Homo sapiens: one gene and its partners. The protein of the gene in region 1 purifies or fractionates together with the protein of each later gene. This does not show direct contact. Each region holds a gene or a part of one and is shown in the gene's direction. Other genes may lie near its edges.

Evidence for each region.
Region 2: the proteins of HDAC5 (region 1) and TBL1X purify together in Homo sapiens (affinity purification with mass spectrometry; 3 studies listed by BioGRID and IntAct, with this or other methods). This does not show direct contact.
Region 3: the proteins of HDAC5 (region 1) and PRKD2 purify together in Homo sapiens (affinity purification with western blotting; 2 studies listed by BioGRID, with this or other methods). This does not show direct contact.
Region 4: the proteins of HDAC5 (region 1) and SMC3 purify together in Homo sapiens (affinity purification with mass spectrometry, with the first as the bait; one study listed by BioGRID). This does not show direct contact.
Region 5: the proteins of HDAC5 (region 1) and APPL1 purify together in Homo sapiens (affinity purification with mass spectrometry; one large-scale study listed by BioGRID and IntAct). This does not show direct contact.
Region 6: the proteins of HDAC5 (region 1) and NR2E1 purify together in Homo sapiens (affinity purification with western blotting; 2 studies listed by BioGRID). This does not show direct contact.
Region 7: the proteins of HDAC5 (region 1) and CSE1L purify together in Homo sapiens (affinity purification with mass spectrometry, with the first as the bait; one study listed by BioGRID). This does not show direct contact.

What each region holds. Positions count from the first base shown.
Region 1 is NC_000017.11:44,082,142-44,085,641, reverse strand, and holds part of HDAC5 (histone deacetylase 5), read left to right. Parts: intron 1-486; coding exon 487-620; intron 621-966; coding exon 967-1,087; intron 1,088-1,787; coding exon 1,788-1,837; intron 1,838-1,989; coding exon 1,990-2,097; intron 2,098-2,821; coding exon 2,822-2,877; intron 2,878-2,969; coding exon 2,970-3,057; intron 3,058-3,500. UniProt on the Homo sapiens protein: Responsible for the deacetylation of lysine residues on the N-terminal part of the core histones (H2A, H2B, H3 and H4).
Region 2 is NC_000023.11:9,468,058-9,471,557, forward strand, and holds part of TBL1X (F-box-like/WD repeat-containing protein TBL1X), read left to right. Parts: intron 1-3,500. UniProt on the Homo sapiens protein: F-box-like protein involved in the recruitment of the ubiquitin/19S proteasome complex to nuclear receptor-regulated transcription units. Plays an essential role in transcription activation mediated by nuclear receptors.
Region 3 is NC_000019.10:46,676,466-46,679,114, reverse strand, and holds part of PRKD2 (serine/threonine-protein kinase D2), read left to right. Parts: intron 1-451; coding exon 452-719; intron 720-1,658; exon of another isoform or gene 1,659-1,975; intron 1,976-2,649.
Region 4 is NC_000010.11:110,577,695-110,581,194, forward strand, and holds part of SMC3 (structural maintenance of chromosomes protein 3), read left to right. Parts: intron 1-140; coding exon 141-220; intron 221-933; coding exon 934-1,012; intron 1,013-3,209; coding exon 3,210-3,327; intron 3,328-3,500. UniProt on the Homo sapiens protein: Central component of cohesin, a complex required for chromosome cohesion during the cell cycle. The cohesin complex may form a large proteinaceous ring within which sister chromatids can be trapped.
Region 5 is NC_000003.12:57,262,229-57,265,728, forward strand, and holds part of APPL1 (DCC-interacting protein 13-alpha), read left to right. Parts: intron 1-3,500. UniProt on the Homo sapiens protein: Multifunctional adapter protein that binds to various membrane receptors, nuclear factors and signaling proteins to regulate many processes, such as cell proliferation, immune response, endosomal trafficking and cell metabolism.
Region 6 is NC_000006.12:108,172,522-108,176,021, forward strand, and holds part of NR2E1 (nuclear receptor subfamily 2 group E member 1), read left to right. Parts: intron 1-2,314; coding exon 2,315-2,402; intron 2,403-3,500. UniProt on the Homo sapiens protein: Orphan receptor that binds DNA as a monomer to hormone response elements (HRE) containing an extended core motif half-site sequence 5'-AAGGTCA-3' in which the 5' flanking nucleotides participate in determining receptor specificity.
Region 7 is NC_000020.11:49,084,312-49,087,811, forward strand, and holds part of CSE1L (exportin-2), read left to right. Parts: intron 1-971; coding exon 972-1,075; intron 1,076-3,500. UniProt on the Homo sapiens protein: Export receptor for importin-alpha. Mediates importin-alpha re-export from the nucleus to the cytoplasm after import substrates (cargos) have been released into the nucleoplasm.

The sequences.
Region 1 (3,500 bases):
TAATCCCAGCTACTCGGGAGGCTGAGGCAGGAGAATTGCTTGAGCCCAGGAGGCAGAGGTTGCAGTGAGCCGAGATCGTGCCACTGGACCTGGCCGACAGAGCGAGACTCTGTCTCAAAAAAAAACAAAAGAAAAGCTAGGTGTGGTAGTGCCTATAGTCCCAGCTACTCAGAACGCTGAGGTGGGAGGATCGCTTGAGCCCAGGGTGGTGGGGGCAGTGGTTGAGGCTGCAGTGAGCCATGATAGCACCACTACACACTCCACTCCAGCCTGGGTGACAGAGTGAGACCCTGTTTCAAAGAAAAAAAAAAAAAAGCTGGAGAGGAGAGGGGGCAGGTTTGTGGCAGGGTGGCTGCAGTGGCCATGGGGAGGTGTTTGGACCTGGGGGTTGGAGACAGCTCCATGAGCCCTGCTGAGGATCATGGTAGCCAGGCTGGGATCCTGGGCCCAGAGCAGTGCTGGCTGACACATAGGTCTGTGGCCCAGGTGTGGTCTACGACACGTTCATGCTAAAGCACCAGTGCATGTGCGGGAACACACACGTGCACCCTGAGCATGCTGGCCGGATCCAGAGCATCTGGTCCCGGCTGCAGGAGACAGGCCTGCTTAGCAAGTGCGAGGTAAGGGAGCCCCTCCTTCTTCTGGCTCTCAACTTAAATCCAGCCTTTGTTTCCCTGTTAGATAAGCCTCTCTTCATGCTTCTTCCTCATCCTCTCTTCAGCCCCAGACTTCGGGGCCAGTTCTCCCACCACCCCGTTCCATCCCTTGCAGCCTGTTTTCCCCCATGGTCCCCAGCTGAGTGGGGGGGATCCGGGAGTAAGGTCATGACAGAGCCAGGATCTACTTTCTGAAAATATTTGGATCTCCTGAGGCCAGGAAGTGGCTCTGTGTGCCCTGGCTATGGGGCAGAGAGGCTCTGAGAGAGCTGTGCCTTTGTGTGACCCCTCTTACTGATCCTCCTGGCAGCGGATCCGAGGTCGCAAAGCCACGCTAGATGAGATCCAGACAGTGCACTCTGAATACCACACCCTGCTCTATGGGACCAGTCCCCTCAACCGGCAGAAGCTAGACAGCAAGAAGTTGCTCGGTGAGCTGGCACATGGGTGGGCGGGCAGGCATGTTCAGTGTCAGGGTGGGATGGGGGCTCTCAGGAAGACTGCCTGACCAGGCTAGGAGGGTTGTCCCCACGGGCATAGGGCATTGCTGCGGCAGAGGTGGCACAATTATCACGTCACACACCTCCAGAGGGCGCCACTAAAATAGAGCATGCTGTGGGGCGCGGTGCAGGAGGATGGAAGTGCTCGGTTGGGGGGACTGCTTTGTTCCCCTCCTCCACGGCTTATCATGCTCCTCTCTCCCTGCCACCTGCCCCCAGAGGTAAGACGTCCCCAAGGACAGAGGACTGACAGCTTCCAACTGGTGTGGGCTGCAGAGGCCTGTCTTGTACTTGGGTCTGAGCCCTCATTTTTGGTGGCTAAGCCTGTAGCCCTGTGGCAGTTGAGGTGCCTTTTTTTTTTTTGAGACAGTCTTGCTCTGTTGGCCAGGCTGGAGTACAGTGGTGCGATCTCAGCTCACTGCGACCTCTGTCTCCCCAGGCTCAAGCAACTCTCTTGCCTGAGCCTATTGAGTAGCTGGGTTTACAGGTGTGTGCCACCACGCCCAGCTAAGTTTTGTATTTTTAGTAGAGATGGGGTTTCATCATGTTGTCCAGGCTGGTCTCGAACTCCTGACCTCAGGTGATCCGCCCGAGGCCACTTCTAGAGTAGCTCTATTCCTCTTCCATGCAGGCCCCATCAGCCAGAAGATGTATGCTGTGCTGCCTTGTGGGGGCATCGGGGTGAGTAGGGCGTACAGCAGTGGGGGTGGGCGGGCGGCTCTCCTAGGTCTGTCTCTTCCCTGCCTACCACAGCCGCTGGCCCACTGTCCAGGTGCCCTCCCCTGTTCTTGCCCTGCAGGGGGCACACTGAAACCTGCTCTCCTGCCCTGCAGGTGGACAGTGACACCGTGTGGAATGAGATGCACTCCTCCAGTGCTGTGCGCATGGCAGTGGGCTGCCTGCTGGAGCTGGCCTTCAAGGTGGCTGCAGGAGAGCTCAAGGTGAGCGTGTGCTTGTGACCTCGGTGCCCCTTGGCATGGCCCTGCTCCTCAGAGGCAGAGGACAGGGGCAGCCTTGGGATCCTTTCAGTGAGGCACTGTCCTTTGCAAGCTCAACTCTCAGGCACCAGGGTGGGAAGGAGTTGCCAGCTGGGAATTCAGGTTATGAGGGACCAACAAAAAGACACTAATGCCCAGTGCTCTCGTGGGTGTCTCGAGGCAGAAATAGTGTCTGCCTGCTCAAGCCTCATGGTTGGCATTCAAAATGGTCCGTTGAGGCTGGGCACAGTGGCTCATACCTGTAATCTCAACACTTTGGGAGGCCGAGGTGGGCAGATAGCTTGAGCCCAGGAGTTCGAGACCAGCCTGGGCAACATAGTAAAACGCTGTCTCTACAAAAAATTAACCAGGTGTGGTGGCGTGTGCTTGTAGTCCTAGCTATTCAGGAGACTGAGGTGGAAGGATTGTCTGAGCCTGGGAGGCCAAGGTTGTAGTGAGCCATGATCGCGCCACTGCACTCCAGCCTGGGTGACAAAGCAAGACTCTGTCTCCAAAAAAACCCATAAAAAAACAAAGAAACCCCAACAAAATTGTGCATTAAACATATGGATCTGCTTTTCTGGTTTGTGTTCACTTCCCTGCCTGGCTTGTGCTTCTGTCCTGTGCTACCCCCTCCACGGCCTTCCTGCCTGGATCTTGCCCCTCACCTCTGCCTGCACCTCTTCAGAATGGATTTGCCATCATCCGGCCCCCAGGACACCACGCCGAGGAATCCACAGCCATGTGAGTGCCCTAGATTCTCTGCCCTCGCCCCTTCCTGTCTCTTGCAAACGTCATGCTGAGGCTGACCTCCTGCCCTTTTCTCCCCTCCTCAGGGGATTCTGCTTCTTCAACTCTGTAGCCATCACCGCAAAACTCCTACAGCAGAAGTTGAACGTGGGCAAGGTCCTCATCGTGGACTGGGTAGGCAGTGAGCTGGTGGGGCTGGGCAGGGGCGGGTAGAGCTAGGACCAGGGTCAGCCTTCAGGAAGTCTCCTCCCCCAGCCCCACCTTCAAGCACCCCAGTCGTCCTCATCCTCGGGTGCTGGGTGTGGGTGCAGAAGGAAGGGCGCTGGGGCTCCTGCCGGATGACTAACGTCACATTCCAACAGGGCTCCCTCCTCAACTATGAAAGACATTTAGCTCCTGTTCCATCTTGGCCCTCACGTTGCAGTTTCAAGCAACGAAGGGGATTTCCTACCTTGAACGGTAGTGACGCTGCCGCCATTGCTAGTAGCCGATATTTCCTCCCACCCCCTACAATTAGGAGCAGACTGTATACCAGGAACACAATGAGTACTTTATGGCCACCTCGAGTAGTAAGAACGAGGATGTCCATTTCTGTGAACAAAGGTGTTGTTGCGTGA
Region 2 (3,500 bases), on another chromosome or scaffold:
AATTGGAAACCGTTACAAATGGAATTGGAACAAATTTAAAGTTAAGATGGAAGAGAGAATATGTTGAGTTTTCAGAGGAAGTCGGGTACTGCTTCCTTTTCTTGTCTAGGTTTGTTCTTGTCCGATGGGATCAGAGAGATTTGAGATGGGGCATGATAGGCGGCGGGTTCAGGAGAAAGGGAAGCTTTAGAAATGAAGGTAGAAAAGATGCTTGCTTATTGGAACAGTATTTTCAACGTTGAGCTCTGGAATGTTGCAGCCAACTAATGGTTCTCATTTGGGACAGTTTTGTCCCCCACTTTTGAAGGGAGCATTTGCCAATGTCTGGAGACATTTCCCTTCCTGCAACTGTTAAATTAGCAAACAGGTTGAGCCAGCTGGGTGTGGACCTGCATTTTCCTCGTGGAGGCCCTCTTCCAAGTGTCAGTAGGAAAAGGGCTCCCAGAGTGTGGTCCTGCTGCGGGACCTTGGCCCCCACGTCCAAGTGAGCCCCAGAGGTGCCCCAAGCCCTGCCTGGTCATGGGGAATCTGGGCTCCCGCTGAACTTGGGCGCTGGGGACAGCTATGAGGGAAACCTGGTTTGCAGCTAGCTTGCCGTGCACTGACTGGAGCTTTGGGCAAATCAGTGAACTTCTCTAACATTAATTTTCTCATTGAGAGAGGAGGTGGGTAGGAGTATATATATATATATGTAATTATATATATAGGGGTCGGGTAGAGGGAGAGAGAGATTTCCCAGGCTCCTTGTATTAAAGGAGATAGAGTTATTATATTTCTCATTTAGTTTTTATTTATTTGTTTATTTTGAGACAGTGCAATTATTATAGCTAGCTGCAGCCTCAACCTTCTGGGCTTAAGCAATTCTCCTGCCTCAGCCTCCTAAGTAGCTGGGAGTACCAAATGCGCACTACCATACCTGGCAATTTTTTTATTTTTATTTTTAGTAGACACAGGCTCTCACTGTGTTGCCCAGGCTGCTCTCAAACTCCTGGGCTCCAGTGATCCTTCCTCCTTGACCTCCCCAAGTGTTGAGATTACAGGTGTGAGCCACTTTACTCAGTCGACCGACATAGAATTATTATAATGCTTGGAGCCTAACATGCCTTTTTTGTTTGTTTGTTTGTTTTTTCTGAGACGAAGTCTCTCTCACAGCCCAGGCTGGAGTGCAGTGGTGCGATCTCGGCTCACTCTGCCTCCCGGGTTCAAGCGATTCTCCTGCCTCGGCCTCCTGAGTAGCTGGGATTACAGGCATGCTCCACCACACCCGGCTGATTTTTGTATTTTTAGTAGAGGTGGGGTTTCACCATGTTGGCCAGGCTGGGCTCGAACTTCTGACCTCAGGCGACCCTCCCGCCTCGGCCTCCCAAAGTGCTGGGCTTATGGGCATGAGCCATCGCGCCCGGCTAGCCTAACATGCTTATAGTTTCCTGTTTTCTGAAGTTGGGAATTGGGTCTGGAAAGGTATCACCATCAGTCACGATGGTGTCTAGTAGTTTGCTTTGTTTTTTTCCTTATCTTTTCCCTCTTACATTTTAGGGCTGTATCTATATAATTTTATTATTTAAATTACCATATGGTAAGTTTGTCTCTTTGGGTGCATTATGAGTCTTGACACATGCATAGATTGGTGTGACCACCATCATCATCAGGAGAGAGAACAATCTCCTCAGCCCAGAGATGTTCATGGCTCTGTCTCCCACAGTTCCTCCACAGTCACCCCCCCCAGCCCCGAATCTGGGGCACCCAGCCATCTGCTCTGCTCTGGAAGTCTTGGGGATCCCATCTGAATGTAACACATGGTGGAATGCCTTAGGTGAATCCATCCGCTCTTCCAGTACCACCTTTGCCTCCTCTCTCTGATGACACATGAACTTCATGCCTTTGTGTGCTTTGGCCAACCGCTTTTCTTAGAACAGCACATTTTGCACTGTAGATGTTATCACAAGCAAGGAAAAAACAGCTTTGCTCCTTAATGTAAGAAACCACAGTGGAAAAACATCAGGTGTGTTGTTGAGGCTGCTAAAGCTTTGCTCCTTTTTAAAATTTTTTAAAAATTTTTCTGGATACGTAGGTGTATATATTTATGGGGTGCATTAGATATTTTGATATAGTCGTGCAGTGTATAATCACATCATGGAGAATGGGGGTATCCATTCCCTCAAGCACTTATTCTTTGTGTTACAAACAATCCAATTATACTCTTTTAGTTATTTGCTCTTTTTTCTTTTATTTTGAGACGGAGTCTCACTATGTCGCCCAGGGTAGAGTGCGGTGGCGCGATCTCCGCCCGCAAGTTCAAGCGATTCTCCTCCTCAGCCTCCGGAGAAGCTGGGACTAGAGGCATGTGCCACCACACCTGGCTAATTTTTTTGTATTTTTAGTAGAGATGGGTTTCACCATGTTGGTCAAGCTGGTCTCAAACTCCTGACCTCAGGTGATCCACCTGCTTAGCCTCCCAAAGTGCTGGGATTACAGGCGTAAGCCAGCACGCTCGGCCTATTTATTTCCTCTTTGTTCTATGCCAGTTAGTTCTTGATGCCTCATTGTTTCAGATGGGACATTTTCTAATGTCGTGTTTTTGTTTTTGTTTTTTTGAGACAGAATTTCATTGGTGTTTCCCAGGTTGGAGTGCAGTGGCATGATCTCTCCTCACTGCAACCTCCGCTTCCCGGGATCAAGCAATTCTCCTGCCTCAGCCTCCCGAGTAGCTGGGATTACAGGCATGCACCACCATGCCCGGCTAATTTTGTATTTTTAGTAGAGATGGCATTTCACCATGTTGGTCAGGCTGGTCTCGAACTCCTGACTTCAGATGATCCACTCGCCTCGGCCTCCCAAACTACTGGAATTACAGGTGTGAGCAACCATGCCCGACCTCTGATGTCCTTTTAGAGGATGTTACCCTCACCTTTATTGCACAGTCCTACCAAAAGGTACTTCATATGTGAAATGTATCAGAAGGTTATAGTCATGGCTTTAGTTTAAAAACAGGATACATGTTCATTAAGGACCTTTGCCGTTTTCCCAATGGGTTAATCACGTAAATATAAAATAGGCTAAAAATATCAAGTTGTTTTTGCCTTTGTTGTAGAAATAAAAAAATGAATTCCTACATCTGTGTTTCTATGGAGCTGCTAACCTGTGTTTTACTCTGGGCCATATGTCGCTTTCTGTGATCTCATGACGTGGCATGTTTTCTAATATAATCCTTGTCCTGGCATTTTGGTGACTTTTGTCCTGCCTGAGGTGGTCTACCTGGTTGTGTGAAGTCACAGAACCTGTGCATGTCCTACCGTGTAGAGTTAAAGGGCTGGATGAGTGGCCTCAAGCCTTTTCCTCCCTCCCAGGTGTGAAGATTTGGTTTGGAAGATGGACCCTGCTTCAAGGTCTGGGAGGCCATGTTTTTTTCAGACTGGTTAAGGATGACGGTTTTATGTTAACTAAACATTGGGATCAAGTGACAGTTGTTTATGTCCGGTGCCTAGAGTATCAGTTTTCCC
Region 3 (2,649 bases), on another chromosome or scaffold:
TTCCTTGGCCTCCCAAAGTGCTGAGATTGCAGGCATGAGCCACCACGCCCCAATCATGTATATTTTGAGGCTATTAAAAAAAATCTGCATTATTCAAAAGAGGAAACAGCGACCCATTGGAGGTGGCAGAGGTATAGCAGCAGCTAGCATTTATTGTGCACCAACTGAATGCCAAATATTGTCCTGTGGGCTTTGGATGGTTTAATTCACTAACCATCATGGCAGTCCTCTGAGATAGGTGCTCTTCTGCTCTTCTTCCTATAGATGGGGAAACTGAGGCACAGAGGGGGGAAGTCACCTGCCCAGGGTTGCTCAGCTAGTGAGCCAAGGAGCCTGGATTCAAACCAGCATCCAGCTTTCTCTGGAATACCATGGAGGGTGGTGTGGTGGGGATGCTGGGGTGGGTGCGGCTCCATCACCTGGTGGAGCCTCCATCCCTTGCCCTCTGCAGGTGAAGCTGTGTGACTTTGGCTTTGCTCGCATCATCGGCGAGAAGTCGTTCCGCCGCTCAGTGGTGGGCACGCCGGCCTACCTGGCACCCGAGGTGCTGCTCAACCAGGGCTACAACCGCTCGCTGGACATGTGGTCAGTGGGCGTGATCATGTACGTCAGCCTCAGCGGCACCTTCCCTTTCAACGAGGATGAGGACATCAATGACCAGATCCAGAACGCCGCCTTCATGTACCCGGCCAGCCCCTGGAGCCACATCTCAGCTGGAGGTGCCTGGGGCCCGCCTACCCCATGGGCGGGTGGGTTGTGGGGTGGGGCTGGAGAAGTGGGCGGAGCCATGAGAGGGGGGTGGACCCGGAAACAGCCTGGCACCTTGGGGGTGGAGCCCAGTGCTGGGGCGGGCCTACTGGAGGGATGTGGCTACAGGAGGAGCCGTCCTGTAAAAGATGGGCTGGGACTCAGGCCTAGACTAGGTTACTTGGGCTGGAAACCAAGTGCCCCAGAAGCGCTGAGGACACTTGGAACCTTAGGGGGGCTGAGTGAGACTTGGCTTGTCTAGGGTGGGACCAGGAAAGGGACTGGACTTGAGGGTACCAAAGGGCTGCGGTGACCAGGAGAAGGGGCTGAGCCTCCCAAGGCATTGGCTGGGACCTGGAGCCTTTGGGTTTACGACCCCAAAAGGGTCAGCCTTGCAAAAAGGAGGCACCGGTGGGTAGGGTTGAGAAACAAGGGCATGGCTACTTTGCTGTGTACTGGGGCCGTGACTTGGGTGAAGATGGGCCTGAAGCCTGGGGTCGGTTCAGTGACCAAGGGAGCCAGTCTAGGGACGTGGCCGTGGAGGGTTTCCGAAGAGGTCCAGGAACAGGGCTGACCCTGAGTCCTGGAAGCTGGGAGTGGATGGGAGTGGGGAGGAGAAGGGAGCCAGGACTGAGGCAGACATTGCACTCTGCATTCTGGGGCTTTGGTGTTGTGGCTGGGCCTGATGAAGTGGCACCGGGCCTGGTGACTTGAACCTACTTGGGAATGGGTCTGTAACTTTCCCTGCTTGGAAAAGTTAAGTCCTAAGGCCTGGAGCTTTGAGGCTGGGTGTGGGATGGCATGTTTAGAGGGCCAGAGGCAGGGCTAAGATACTGGGGTGTGTCAGAAGCCAGGAGAACAAGGGACCTGTGTTGGAGCCAGGGAGCTCAGGAAGACAGATGGAGTATGGGAAGGGGGGGGATCATTCATTCATTTATTTATAACCATTTATTCAACAAGTACATTCATGTATTTGTAACCATTGATTCAACATGTTGAGTGCCCACGATGTGCCAGGCATTGACTGTTCCAGCTCTGGGAATACTGTGATGACTTGGACAGAAGGGGTCAGGTGCAGGGTAGCTCATTGAGTGGTCCGCGAAGGGTGGAAAGGGGAAGGGTCCTCTCTGGAGGGTGCGGCTTCATGGAGCAGGTGGAGCAGGGTGACACGGAGGTTGCTCGGTGCAGGACAAGACAAGGTCTTGGTGGTGGTCTAAGAGCATGGGCCCTAAGCAGTGAGAATGTGGATTGACTTGAGTCCTGGAGTAATATTGGGGGTGCTCAACACTGGCTTTTTTTTTTTTTTTGAGGTGGGGTCTCGCTCTTTCACCCACGCTGGAGTGCAGTGGCGTGATCTCGGCTCACTGCAACCTCCACCTCTTGGGTTCAAGGGATTCTCCTGCCTCAGCCTCCCGAGTAACTGGGATTACAGGCACACAGCACCATGCCTGGCTCATGTTTTATATTTTTAGTAGAGACAGGGTTTCGCCATGTTAGCCAGGCTGGTCTTGAACTCCTGACCTCAAGTTATTTGCCCGCTTCAGCCTCCCAAAGTGCTGGGATTGCAGGCATAAGCCATCACACCCCGCCAGCATTGTCTTTTGAGACCCACTCAGAAGTCCCTCAGTAAAAGTGCATCGAGTGTGCACAAGTGAATTTAAGTGTGGTTGCACCTGTGTGAGGATCACAGAATCCTGTGGGTGTTGACGGGAGCAGGGTGCCTGTGTGCACCAGGCCTCTCCTCGGATGGGTTCATACAGTGAAGCCTTGTCCTTCATGGCTTCCCATCAAGGAGAGAGCCTCGGATGAGTGCTGGCTTGTCTTGAAGCTTGACATTCGCTAGTCCTCTTTTTCACAATGAACAGGCCTATCTCTGAGCCTTCTGCAGGCAATGGTGACTAA
Region 4 (3,500 bases), on another chromosome or scaffold:
AGTATTTGTAGTATTATTTTTAGTGAGATAATTGAAATTTTAAAATAAATACTTATGGGCAAGGACTTTAAAATGACCTTATTTAAAAAGTTTTCTCCTTTACTATTAAATTAACTGTGGGCTTTTACATTTTTTCTTAGATCGATAAAGAGGAAGTTTCACTTCGAAGAGTTATTGGTGCCAAAAAGGATCAGTATTTCTTAGACAAGAAGATGGTCACGTAAGCATTTTTCTTTTTTTTAAAAAAACTGAATATGTACTTAAATAGAGATGGGGTATTGCTGTGTTGGCCAGGTTGGTCTCGAACTCTTGGCCTCAAATGATCCACCTCGGCTTCCTAAAGTGCTAGGATTACAGACATGAGCCACCACGCCCAGCCAGCATTTTTCTTTTTCTCAATACGGAGTCTTGCTCTGTCGCCCAGGCTGGAGTGCAGTGGCGCAGTCTCGGCTCACTGCAACCTCCACCTCCCGGGTTCAAGCTATTCTGCTGCCTCAGCCTTCTGAGTAGCTGGGATTGCAGGCAGTCACCACCACACCCGGCTACTTTTTGTATTCTTAGTAGAGACGGGGTTTCACCATGTTGGCAGGCTGGTCTCGAACTCTTGACCTTGTGATCTGCCTGCCTTGGCCTCCCAAAGTGCTGGGATTAGAGGCATGAGCCACTGCGCCCAGCCCGCAATTTTATGATTTCCTTACAAAAGAGTAAAAAGTATTCTTTTACCTGCTTCATATATGAGGAATATTTGCTTCATCTTCAACAAGTCAACATATAGAGGATAAACATAAGAATCAGAAAGTTCTGAGGATGATACAGATGGTTTAATTACTGATCTTTCCTCCCTAATGCTATCAACCAAGGGGCTACTCTACTCATTGCTTAATGGTGCTTTAAAATTATTTATCGGAAAGTAATTTCATTGTTTGTCAACAGGAAAAATGATGTGATGAACCTCCTTGAAAGCGCTGGTTTTTCTCGAAGCAATCCTTATTATATTGTTAAACAAGGAAAGGTAAAACAATTGTATGTCCTTTTTAAGTAGAATTTGTTTTCTGAGTAATTCTTGAGTGATGAATTTGGTTTATTGATTTGAGTGGTTAAGCTGAAGCAAAAATGGCCATATTCTTTTACATGGCCATAAAGTACCAAATAGGTCCATTGCATGTTGAGATGGAAGTATTTCAGCATATTAAGTGGATCTTGTTTTCCTAGTGACTGGTATTACTTACTGAGGTGAAAGTATGGGAAGACATTATTGGCTTATGAATGTTGCAATAATTAAGAATATTGTAGGAATTCTATAAAAATCACATTTGAAAAACTTTCTAAAATTAATATTTTGTGTTACCTAATTATTTATCACAATTAAAATACTGAAAAGCTAACATTACCAGAAATCTGCCATTTTGCCACATGTTATTTTCCCTAATAGGGATTATGTTTTTACATTTTTTCAGCAGCCAAACTACAAACTTTTTTAGCTGATTGTTCTGCTCTCTTCTCATATACTTTCACTTTTTTTTTGGACTAGGGAAAATTCTCAAAGAATATTCACTTATTTTATACTGTAGGCCTTTTTTTCTAGATATGTATTGGAAAGTTAGCATTTAGAAGAAGTGATTAGGAAGAATATGGAGTTTCAGTTTTAGAAAATGTGTTACTGGAAGAACACGTTTTTTTCCGATTTAACTATTTGTGGGAGATAAATTTTTTTAAATGGAGGCTGATTTGAAAGAGCACTTTTCTGAGATCCGTCTGCTGTCAATCTAGGCCCTTTTACTTCATTTCAGTTTCTGCCCGTATGCCATCCTTGATTGCCTCATCTGAAAGCATTGCCGTCCCCTCAACCCTATGTGCTTTATTTCCTTAATCTGTTTTATTTTTCTTCATAACACTTACACTGTTAGGATAGTACTTATTTTCTGTCTTTTTCCATTAGAATGTAAGCTCCATGAGGGTGGGACCTTTTCTGCTTTGTTTGCTCTTTTCCAGTGCCCAGCAGTGGCACATATGTTGTAGCCATTTGAAAAATAATTTTTAAGTGAGGAAATTGCATGAACCAATATGTATAATTGGAGCGTTCAATAATGAGGATCTGAAGGATGATTCTTTGATGTAGATACTTTTGATAGACCTATTTTCGTAGAGATAATTTCAATTTTTTAATGCAGTGATATCATTTTTGACATTTAGGGATACTTGTTATATATTAAGTTGCATGGCACTTAAGTTGTACCATTCTCTCTATATTTAAAGCATACCATTTTTGTCATATCATTAGCCTTCTGTATCTGTAGGTTCCACATCTGCAAGTTCAGCCAACCATGGATCAAAAATATTTAAAATAAATAAAATTTTAAAACAGTACAATAAGAAATAATACAAATTTAAAAATACAGTAAAACTATTTACATAGCATTTACATTGTATTATTATAATTAATCTAGATATTAAAGTATATGGAAGGATGTGCATAGGTTATATGCAAATACTATGCCATTTTATATAAGGGACTTGAGCATCCTTGGATTTTGGTACCTGCAGGGGGTCCTAGAACCAATCCCCATGGAAACTGAGGAAGAATTGACTTTTAATATATTATTGTAGCTTTAAAAAAAAGTGTAGTCAGTGATGGTTTTCCCTTATAAAAATACTTTGTTTTTTGAGAATGGAGCTCATCTTTTATACCTTATCATATTGACTAAGAAAAAGATGGTGGTGTGAGATACTCCTTCACTTGTTAGCCCTATTCATAAAGGAGAGTTATGACCGTAACAGTTGTATTTGGATTTTATTTGGTAAATTTCATTTAAGTAAAGGAGACATAGATATGTAGGCATGCGTACTATACAAATGACATTAGCCAAATCATAATCTGTTTAAAACTTGGCATGTCCCAAATTCAAAAGTCTGAAATACAGAATGCTCTACAATCTGAAACCTTTCGAGTGTGGACATGACATTCAAAGGAAATGCTTGTTGGAACATTTTGGATTTCAAATTTTTGGATTTGGGTTGCTCATCTGGTAAGTATAAATGCAAATATTCCAAAACTTGAAAAAATCTAAAATCTGTAACACTTCTGGTTTCTAACCATTTTGCATAAGGGATACCCAACCTTCATGTGTATTAAAAACCTTTCAACGTGGAGTTCTTCTTCTTAAACGGAGGCTACAGCTATGTAATGATTATTTTTCTAAAAATTTTAGATCAACCAGATGGCAACAGCACCAGATTCTCAGAGATTAAAGCTATTAAGAGAAGTAGCTGGTACTAGAGTGTATGACGAACGAAAGGAAGAAAGCATCTCCTTAATGAAAGAAACAGGTAAAATAAATGTGATTCTGCCTTATTTTTTTGTTGCAAATTACTGTTTTTGTGACAGAGTGGCTCCATGATGGGAATATAGTAGGTGTTTAGTATATGACAGCATTAGATAATGCTGTTATTAATAAAAATTGAGAATCCATAACACCAATGATGTTAGTAGCTTTTAAAAA
Region 5 (3,500 bases), on another chromosome or scaffold:
TTGGCTATGCAGACACTTTTTAGTTTAAGTCCCATTTGTTTATTTTTATTGCCTATACTTTTGAGGTCTTAGGCATAAAATCTTTGCCGAGACCAATGTGCAGGAGAGTTTTCCCTTCATTTTCTTCTAGTGTTTTTTTTTTCTATGGAAAATAACCTTTTTTTTTTTTTTTTTTTTTTTTTGAGACAGACTCTTGCTCTGTTGCCCAGGCTGGAGTGCAGTGGCACAATCTTGGCTCACCGTAACCTCCACCTCCTGGATTAAAGTGATTTTCCTGCCTCAGCTCCCAAGTAGCTGGGACTACAGTTGTGTGCCACCATGCCCGGCTAATTTTTTTAGTAGAGACAGGATTTCACCATGTTGGCCAGGCTGGTCTTGAACTCCTGACCTCAAGTGATCCACCTGCCTTGGCCTCCCAAAGTGCTGGGATTACAGGCATGAGCTGCCACACCCAGCTGGAAAAAGAACCTTTAATAGAACAATTATTGAGAATATCGTACTAACAAAGTTTCTCAAGAGACTAATTAGAGCTAAAATGGTGAAAGTAGGATGATCTTTGTTTTTCGTTTTTTGTGGGTACAAGGGGTGTGTGTGTGTGTGTGTGTGTGTGTGTGTGTGTATGCATTTTTTTTTTTTTTTCCAGATGGAGTCTTGCTGTGTCACCTGGGCTGGAGTGCAATGGCGCGATCTTGGCTCATTGCAACCTCCGCCCCCTCGGGTTTAAGCGATTCTCCTGCCTCAGCCTCCTGAGTAGCTGGGTCTATAGGCATGCGCCACCACGCCCAGCTAATTTTGTATTTTTAGTAGAGACAGGGTTTCTCCATGTTGGTCAGGCTGGTCTCAAACTCTCGACCTCAGATGATCCGCCTGCCTCGGCCTCCCAAAGTGCTGGGATTACAGGTGTGAGCCACCTCGCCCAGCCAGGTGTATATATTTATGCAGTACATGAAATATTTTGCTACACTTATGCAATGCGTAATAACCACATCATGGAAAATGGAGTATTCCTTCCCTTAAGCATTTATCCTTTGTATTAGAAACAATCCAATTATACTCTTTTAGTTATTTTTAAATGTACAATTATTATTGACCGTAGTCCCCCGTTCTATCAAATACCAGGTTTTATTCATTCTATTTTTTTTTTTTAATCATTAACCATCCTCCCACCCCCCATCCCCACACTACCCTTCTCAGCCTCTGGTAACCACCCTTCTGTTCTCTGGCTCCATGAGTTCAATTGTTTTGATTTTTAGATCCCACAGATAAGTGAAAACATGCAATATTTGTCTTTCTGTGCCTGGCTTATTTTGCTTAACATAATGACCTCCATGTTCCATATATCTTATTGCAAATGACAGAATCTCATTCTTTTTTATGGCTGAATAGTACTCCATTGTATGTAAGTACCACATTTTCTTTATCCATTTTCTTTATCCATGTATCATCCATTCAAATGACAGAATCTCATTCTTTTTTTCTGGCTGAATAGTACTCCATTGTGTGTGTGTGTACATTTTCTTTATCCATTCATCTGTTGTTTTTTTTTTTTTTCCATTCATCTGTTGATGGACACTTAGGTGGCTTCCAAGTTTTAACTATTGTGAACCGAGCTGCAGCAAACATGGGAGTGCAGATGTCTCTTCAATATACTGATTTCCTTTTTTTAGGTATATACCCAGCAGTGGGATTGCTGGATCATATGGTAGCTCTATTTTTAGTTTTTTGAGGAACCTCCAGACTTTTCTCCATAGTGGTTATACTAATTTACATTCCCACCAACAGTGTACAAGGGTTCCCTTTTCTCCACATGCTTCCCAGCATTTGTTATTGCCTTTTTGCTATAAGCCATTTTAACTGGGGTGAGATGATACATTGTAGTTTTGATTTGCATTTCTCTGATGATCAGTGATGTTGAGGACCTTTTCATATGCCTGTTTGCCATTTGTATGTCTTCTTTTGAAAAATGTCTATTCAAATATTTTGCCCAGTTTTAAATCAGATTAAGGTTTTTCCTATAGAGTTGTTTGAGCTCTTTGTATATTCTGGTTATTAATCCCTTGTCAGATGAGTAGTTTACAAATATTTTCTCCCATTCTGTGGCTTGTTTCTTCACTTTGTTGATTGTTTCCTTTGCAGTGCAGAAACTTTTTAACTTGATGAGATCCCATTTGTCCATTTTTGCTTTAGTTGCCTGTGCTTGTGGGGTATTACTCAAGAAATTTTTGCCCAGACTGATGTCCTGGAGAGTTTCCCCAATATTTTCTTGTAGTAGTTTCATAGTTCAAGGTCTTAGATTTAAGGCTTTAATCCATTTTAATTATATTTAAAAAAATTTAAAAAAAAATAAAAAAAATAAAAAAAAATTTTTTTAAAAAATATTTTTGTATATGGTGAGAGAGAGGGGTCTAGTTTTATTCTTCTACATATGGATATCCAGTTTTCCCGGCACCATTTATTGAAGGGACTGTCTTTTCCCCAATGTATATTCTTGGTGCCTTTGTCAAAAATGAGTTCGCTGTAGTTGTGTGGATTTGTTTCTGGATTCTCTATTCTGTTGCACTGGTCTATGTGTCTTTTTTTTTTTTTTTTGCCAGTACCATGCTGTTTTGGTTACTATAGCTCTGTAGCATTGTAATTTGAAGTCAGGTAATGTGATTTCTCTAATTTTGTTATTTTTGCTCAGAATAACTTTGGCTATTCTGAATCTTTTATGATTCCATATACATTTTCAGATTGTTTTTTCTATTTCTGTGAAGAATGCCATTGGTTTTTTGATAGGGATTGCATTGAATCTATAGATTGCTTTGGGTAGTATGGACATTTTAACAATATTGATTCTTCCAATCCATGAACGTGGAATATGTTTCCATTTTTGGTGTCCTCTTCAATTTCTTTCATCAGTGTTTTATAGTTTTTTGTTTTTTTTGTTTGTTCTTTTGAGACAGAGTCTCATTCTATTGCCCAGGCTGGAGTGCAGTTGCATAATCTCGGCTCACTGCAATGTCTGCCTCCCAGGTTCAAGTAATTCTCATGCCTCAGCCTCCCAGGTACCTGGGATTACAGGTATGCGCCACCACCACCTGGCTAATTTTTGTATTTTTAGTAGAGATGAGGTTTCACCATATTGGCCAGGCTGGTCTCAAACTCCTGGCCTCAAGTGATCCACCTGTCTCGGCCTCCCAAAGTGCTGGGATTACAGGCCTGAGCCACTGCGCCCAGCCTGTAGTTTTCATTATAGAGATCTTTCACTTTGGTTAACTCCTGGGTATTTAATTTTATCTGTGGCTATTGTAAGTGAGATTACTTTATTTATTTCTTTTTCAGATTGTTCACTGTTGGCATATAGAAATGCTACTAATTGTTGTATGTTGATTTTGTATCCTGAAACTTTACTGAATTCATCAGTTCTAATAGTTTTTTGGTGGAGTCTAGGTTTTTCTAAATATAAGATCATCATATCATCTGCAAACAAGGATAGTTTGACTTCTTCCTTTACAATT
Region 6 (3,500 bases), on another chromosome or scaffold:
TGGTCCTACACTTTGCCCTCTCCTTATCAGCGACTCAGACCCTCAGTACAGAGTCCTCCATTTCACTTGTGGAAAGATCCCTGAGGGTGCATTAGTCAGCAGTCATCCTTTGGTAACAAAATAGTAAAACACTTTTCACTAATTGATATATATAGGGTACATGTATACACATGCATATATTGTCTGCTGCTAGTGAATTGTTCTGACATCTTTTTCTGAAGTCATGTCTGCTCATATTGTTTTCTAATAGTTTTGGATTAACCACAAAAACAGAAGATATTTGCATTGAGATAAATTTTGAGCTCTCTAGCCCTGTTACCTGTTTAATTGGCTACTGTATCAGTTTCTAGCTTCACCATATGGACACATCACATTTTACACGCATAGGACTGTATCCCAATAACTCCACAGGATTGTGCGATTACTGCGGGTTGTCAGATTTGAACCAACTTCTACTTAGATTGTCTTTTGCTTTTATGCAGTGAACAGAATTGGAAAATCAAGATCTCTGATGTTGTGCTTGATCTTTTAGAAGGGGATGGCTATCAATTCAAGCATATTGATATCAGTCCAAGTGCTTGTAAAGGACTGATAATAGACTCATCAGGCCTGGTGTTCTTCTTGCAAGGAGAGTAAATGATCAGAGCTGAGGCGTTTATCCTTCTCTCTGGCGCTAGATATTTATATACATTTGATCTGATTTGAAGACACACTTAAGAACTTATGAAGGTTTCCATTTTGCATTTGCATACTTATAAGAATACTGGAAAGATACCATCTGAGGATAGATATATAATTACATTTAATAACAAGTTTTAAAAAACCTGTTTACAATGAACTATTACATTGGCCAGCAAAGATGCCCTAAATAATTCACTTTGGACCCAAAAATTATCTCCTTTCTCTCTTATTCTAGGATTAAATTATATTCCAATTTATTATTAACAGTAATGAGGACATTTAGAAATGGATATGAACATCTGTCCCACCTTTATTTTAAATAAATCATCATAATTTAAATTGGAGAAGTGTGAACTCATAAAACTGCATTCGAATGTGTAATTTTCCCCTAAAGGGCTTCAGGGGGAAGAAAAACATACTTACTCCAACTCCAGAGTATATGAATTTTTGAGATTATGAAGCAAAATAAAAATACATTTATTATCTTTCTTCTCACTACAAATCTAACAGTAGCAACTTCTATAAATATAGGAGAGCACACAATGTCTTAAATATTTTCTGTGTATAAAACTCATGCACATGACTCTTTATGTATCTATGCATATGTCCCCTCGGTAATGACATCTAACACTGAATAAATTCCAAAGGAAACTTTATCTGTAGATTTCCTCTTTCAATGGCTAATGTTTTTACAGAAAATTGCATTAGGTAAACATCTAATTTCTCATGCATCTCAGATAAATATTTCTAAAGAAGTGACTACCTTTATTTTTTCAGTTACTATGCTAACAGTCTGAGCCCATATTATCATTTAGTCTGACAGTCCATCACATTACCTTCCTGGTCCTGTTTACATGGTGAGCATTTCTATATTTTGCTCAAGACTTGAGCTCTTCCTTTTTCACCCTCATCTTCTCTAGGCCTTGCCCTCCTAAACTCTCACCTTCCAGGAAGGGCTGTGTTTCTATGCACCTGGGCCGAGGCTAGTCTTTAAGGCAACTCTCAACTTGCTGATAATAAGGTTGGCTTCATACAAAAGCAAAAGTGAGGTAATAGGAGAGTGAAGAATAAATGGGAGAGATTTATCTGATAGATAAACGGGCTCTCCCAGAAAGTGGCAGAAAGAGGTAGACTCAAGTACTGAAAGCAGAAAGAATCGTTGGTGGGAGGGCGGTATGGTGTGAATCCTGACCCAAAAGCCAGCTCTTAACGGAAGGAACTTAGTGGCCTCTTTCTCTGGGGCCAAGTCGCTGTCTTCGGTCCTGAAGTCTCGTCCCTGTTCCACCACTCCGCGACTGGCGGAAGTTCCCCTAGCGAGAGCCCCGCAGGCCTGCGGGGTCTGCCAAACCCGGCTCTCTAAGCTTCACCTGCTTGGAGAAGGACGTTTCCCCCTTGTCCGCTTTCTTGGGGTCCGGGACTGGCCCTCTTGAAGTAGCCTGGGACGTCCCAGCCCCTTCTCGATCTGGCCCTGCTCATGCCCAAGGCCCTCGCGTTTTGCAGGCCCAGGCTCGGGGCTCCAGGGCCTGCGGCCGGGCAAGGTCGCGCCTCCACACCGTTTCCCCGCCCGGGTGCCGGCTCCGGGTCTCCAGCCTAAAGGCCCTGGGGACCGCTGACCTCCTGCTCTCTGTTCCAGGGAGGCTGTCCGGTGGACAAGACGCACAGAAACCAGTGCAGGGCGTGTCGGCTGAAGAAGTGTTTGGAAGTCAACATGAACAAAGACGGTAATCAGTGCATCCCTTTATTCCAATGTTGATTGAGTAGTAAGTAAATTATATGTACAGAAAATACATGGCACTCCTATGCATGTAAATCAACCCCGGAGCGCTTCTTTCCAGATGCTGGGAATTGGCCTCGGGCTTTCAGTCGTATCCTTCCCGTCTTTCAGCAGGAGCCGCTGGCGACCCCTAGAATTCCCCAGGGCAAGACCCATGCCCACATCAGGAACTTGCGCCCCACAGTCATCTCCACACAGGCAGCGCTTGGGGGGACCCCACTCTCCAGGGGACCGGCGCGCATTTTCTGCCTCCGGTCCTAATCCCTCTTTGCAGCCCTTCGTGGCCACCCTTAAGCCTGCTAGCCTGCCCCAGGATCTTAAAATCTGGATAGTCTCACGGGGAGGAGATCATACAGGCTGGAAGTTCGCGGTGTGTTGAAAAAGGGAGGGCAGAGACGCGAAAACGCGGAATTTCCAGCCCGTGTGCAAATTCTCCAAGATGCCAAAATCAGTACGGCCATTGGGCCGATGTGAGTCCAGGGCCTTCTCTCTGTTCTACAGAAAAGAGGGAAAGGGGGCTGGAGAGGCAGGGTAACGCCCGTGGGTGCCTCGGACACCCAGCTCTCCCAAGGCTCTTAAGCGCGCAACAGCAAGAACCAGGACGTCAGAGTGCTTCCTGGGCCTGGAGCACGGTCCGAGCTGCGTCCCCCGCTGCAGCCTGTCGAGGGCGCCCCAGGCCCAGGCAGGGGGCGAGGGTAATGGGCTGGAGGACACCGTGGGGCCTGGGAACAGGGTGCGAGTGGGTTTTGCTGTGAGGCGGCCCGGGCCGGGTGGCAGCTCCAGGAGGAGAGAGAGCCCCTTCCTCTGCGGCGCAGGAAGCCGGAGGGAGCGTCCAACCTGTTGAACTTGTGTATTGACAAGTTGTCAAGCTCGGCAGGCCGAAGATTGCCCTGAATTAATTTGTTTGTTTAAACTGTTGGTGGTAATTGTCACATCTCCCCTGCCTTTCTCCAGCATACTCGGAGACGGGTTCTCCCTCGTTCCATTCCCTAGCAATCCCGGGGCTCGGGTCCTTTCCTCCTGCGGCCCTCGGAGGCCAAAAGCT
Region 7 (3,500 bases), on another chromosome or scaffold:
GAGGCTGCTTACTAAAATAGGTGCATTATGACAATACAATTTAATAAACTGGAGCCAAGGAAAGTAACTGAGATAAAGTTAATAAACAGAAATGTGTGTCAAAGGATCCTATATAGTAGTCCAAGAAACTCCAAATTTTATTTGGAGTCTCTTAGCAGCCAGGGCAAAGAGGGAAACTTGGGAAGTTAAAATTTTCACAGGGTCTATGAGATAAAAGTTAAAGCAGAGAATACTGTACAATAGTAGTAGTAGTGTTCTCAGCAACAATCATGTAACAGTTATTTTCATGTGGCTATTTGCGTAAGGTCACTTATTTCTGAGATATGACCTAACCGAATGAAAGTAATTCACTGGGGACCAAGAAAATAGGTCTTCTGGCCTGAACCAGGATGAAATGTAGAGGAATGGATGGTCTGCATGTCTTTCAGGCCACTATTCAACAGTATTATTTCTTGAAATGAGCTTTGGGTAAGAGATGGAAAACAGTTCTAGGTTCTTTCCTTCATCAAGAACTTGAAGTACAGATACTCTCAGTGGCCAATTAAGGGTAGAAAGGACATCCTTTGAGGTGAGTCAAGCCAGTACCTATCTTCAGGCCCAGAATTTATGCAGAAAACAGTTCTGAATCTTGGCTCCACCTCCAAAAACAAAATAAATGACAGAGTCCCCTGAGATTCTGAGTTCTTTCTCAGTGGTAATAGATATAAACCAGGGACAACTGTTTCAACTTCAGATGTTGTTGGGTTTAGCTGGCTTTTTGGTTCAGTTGTGTTTGGTTCTCGATGTGCCTTCTTAGGAGCCTAACATGAGCACATGTAAAAAAATTATTTTCCTAAACTGTCTATCAATTGTCAGTGGTGGGAGATGGCTCAGTTTTATGCTGAGAAGGGTGACATAGTGGTTGCCAAGGGTAATCTGCAGTGACAAGCTCAAGAGTTGGTAGTGACTGAAAGCTGTTTTTTCATCTATAGCTTTACAGCTGCAGAAATCGCACCGTTTGTTGAGATTCTGCTAACAAACCTTTTCAAAGCTCTCACACTTCCTGGCTCTTCAGAAAATGAATATATTATGAAAGGTAGGCTGTTTCCCTGGTGTGCAGACTACAGGTATCCAATCTCAGATTGTAAGGGTGAGCACTCTGAGTTATACTTCAGGTTATACAGTCTATGAACCAGATAATGTTTACCAAGTAGTAAGTTAGTTTAGATATTTCAAAATGAAAAACATTATCTTGTTTACTACTAACAATAATTTTTTTTTTTTTTTTTTTTTTTTTTTGAGATGGAGCCTTGCTCTGTTGCCCAGGCTGAAGTGCAGTGGCTTGATCTCAGCTCACTGCCACCTCTCCCTCCTGGGTTCAAGCGATTCTCCTGCCTCAGCCTCCCGAGTAACTGGGATTACAGGTGCACTCCACCATGCCCGGTTAATTTTTGTATTTTTAGTAGAGACAGGGTTTTGCCATATTGGCCAGGCTGGTCTCAAACTCCTGACCTCAAATATCTGCCCGCCTCAGCCTCCCAAAGTGCTGGGATTAGAGGCCACTGCACCTGGCCAACAGTAATCTTAATTTGATATGGAACTTCTCATTACAGAAAATGTAGCAAAGCCCTTTTTTCCTTCCCTAGATTGAGTTTCTTTAAGGCAAAGAAGAGATCATGCAACGTTTATTAACTGCATGCTCACCTAGGTAGGGGTGAAATGTGGGTGCCTGTGGTAGACTCTGCACAAATCGTGTCTTCTTACGTACTGCCAAGGACACAGGCAGCTGTATCCATCCACAGGCTGGTGTATCCATCCACCAGGCACTACATTAGTTGAGTGTCCTGGTGCCAGCTCTGAATTTAGAGATAGTCTCAGTGTTTTTCACTGTTGCATCCCAAAAGCCTAGCACATTGGGTTGTAGGAAGCACTTTTCAGAGAAACTCCCTGATCTTTTCAGTCTGGATCAGAAATCCTAGAGTGGATGTGTGTATCTGGGTGTATGTTTCCAACACTATCCTTCCCCCAACAATGATGTATAATTGTGTAATTATTGTTGTTTAATGTCCTTTTTTTTTTTTTTTTTTTTTTTGAGATGGAGTTTCACTCTTGTTGCCCAGGCTGGAGTGCAATGGCACAATCTCAGCTCACTGCAGCCTCACTCTCCTGGGTTCAAGCGATTCGCCTGCCTCAGCCTCCCGAGTAGCTAGGATTACAGGCGTGTGCTACCATGCCCAGCTAATTTTGTATTTTTAGTAGAGACAGGGTTTCTGCATGTTGGTCAGGCTGGTCTTGAACTCCCGACCTCAGGTGATCCACCCGCCTCAGCCTCCCAAAGTGCTGGGATTACAGGTGTGAGCCACTGCGCCCAGCCTTAATGTCCATTTCTATGAGAGCGGCTAACTAGTCTGTAATCTTCATTACTGTGTTTTTAGGGTATGTAAGAATACACAGTATGTAATACCTTCTCTGTACGGTTGTATGAGTGAATGAAATAATTCTGCGCCAGCCTAGTGGAGGAGCACCAATTTATCCTCTAGCCCTTTTAACCCAGGTCAGGGAAGGATTTTCTCTAGGAAGTGATCTCTAAGCTGAGATATGACCTAACCGAACGTTAGGTGTGAGGGATAGGTAGCAATCTGTTGAAGGGTGGATGAGTCTTTGACTCCAGTAGAGGAGGAAACATGATGTGCAGAGTTCAGGAGGCAAGAGCAGATAGCTTTCTGTCCTTTATGCTTGGCATGTATTTGGGGCTCTGCTTAGTAAACATTTATTTTAGAAATGTTATTTGTGGAAAGAGAGCTTTTATACATTTTTAGCTGACAAATTTATTTTTCTCCCATGCTTCCTATTTTTAACCCATTTATGGTCTTTTGAGCAATATTTTTGCAATTTGGACTCTGTGGCTTTACATGTATTTTTAGAATTTTTTTAGGCTCCTAATCTCTTTTTTTGAGGGAGGTGGATAGGCAGTTTTCTCTTCAGTTTCCTGTAGTTTGTGATCATGTTTCCTTTAGGCTAGGGCTAAACATTTTCTGATGCTGGTTTCTTTTTCTTTTTCTTTTTTTTTTTTTTTTTTGAGAGAGAGAGGGAGTCTCGCTCTGTCTCCCAGGCTGGAGTGCAGTGGCATGATCTTGGCTCACTGCAACCTCCACTTCCCAGGTTCAAGCGATTCTCAAGCCTCAGCCTCCCGAGTAGCTGGGACTACAGACGTGCACCACATACCTGGCTAATTTTGCTATTTTTAATGGAGATGGGTTTTGCCATGTTAGCCAGGTTGGTCTCAGACTCTAGCCTCAAGTGATCCGCCAGCCTCGGCCTCCCAAAGTGCTGGGGTTACAGGTGTGAGCCACCAAGCATGGCCTCTGCTACTGATTTCTAAGAGAAAGAGACCCCAAACAGTTCTCTCTCAGACTCACCTGCTCCATTCATGTCAGCTCACTGTTTCTTCCTCTTAGTCAACCTCTTTAATTATTTTTTAAACCTTGAGCCTTCTAGAAATACTCAGTATTTCCCAGCTA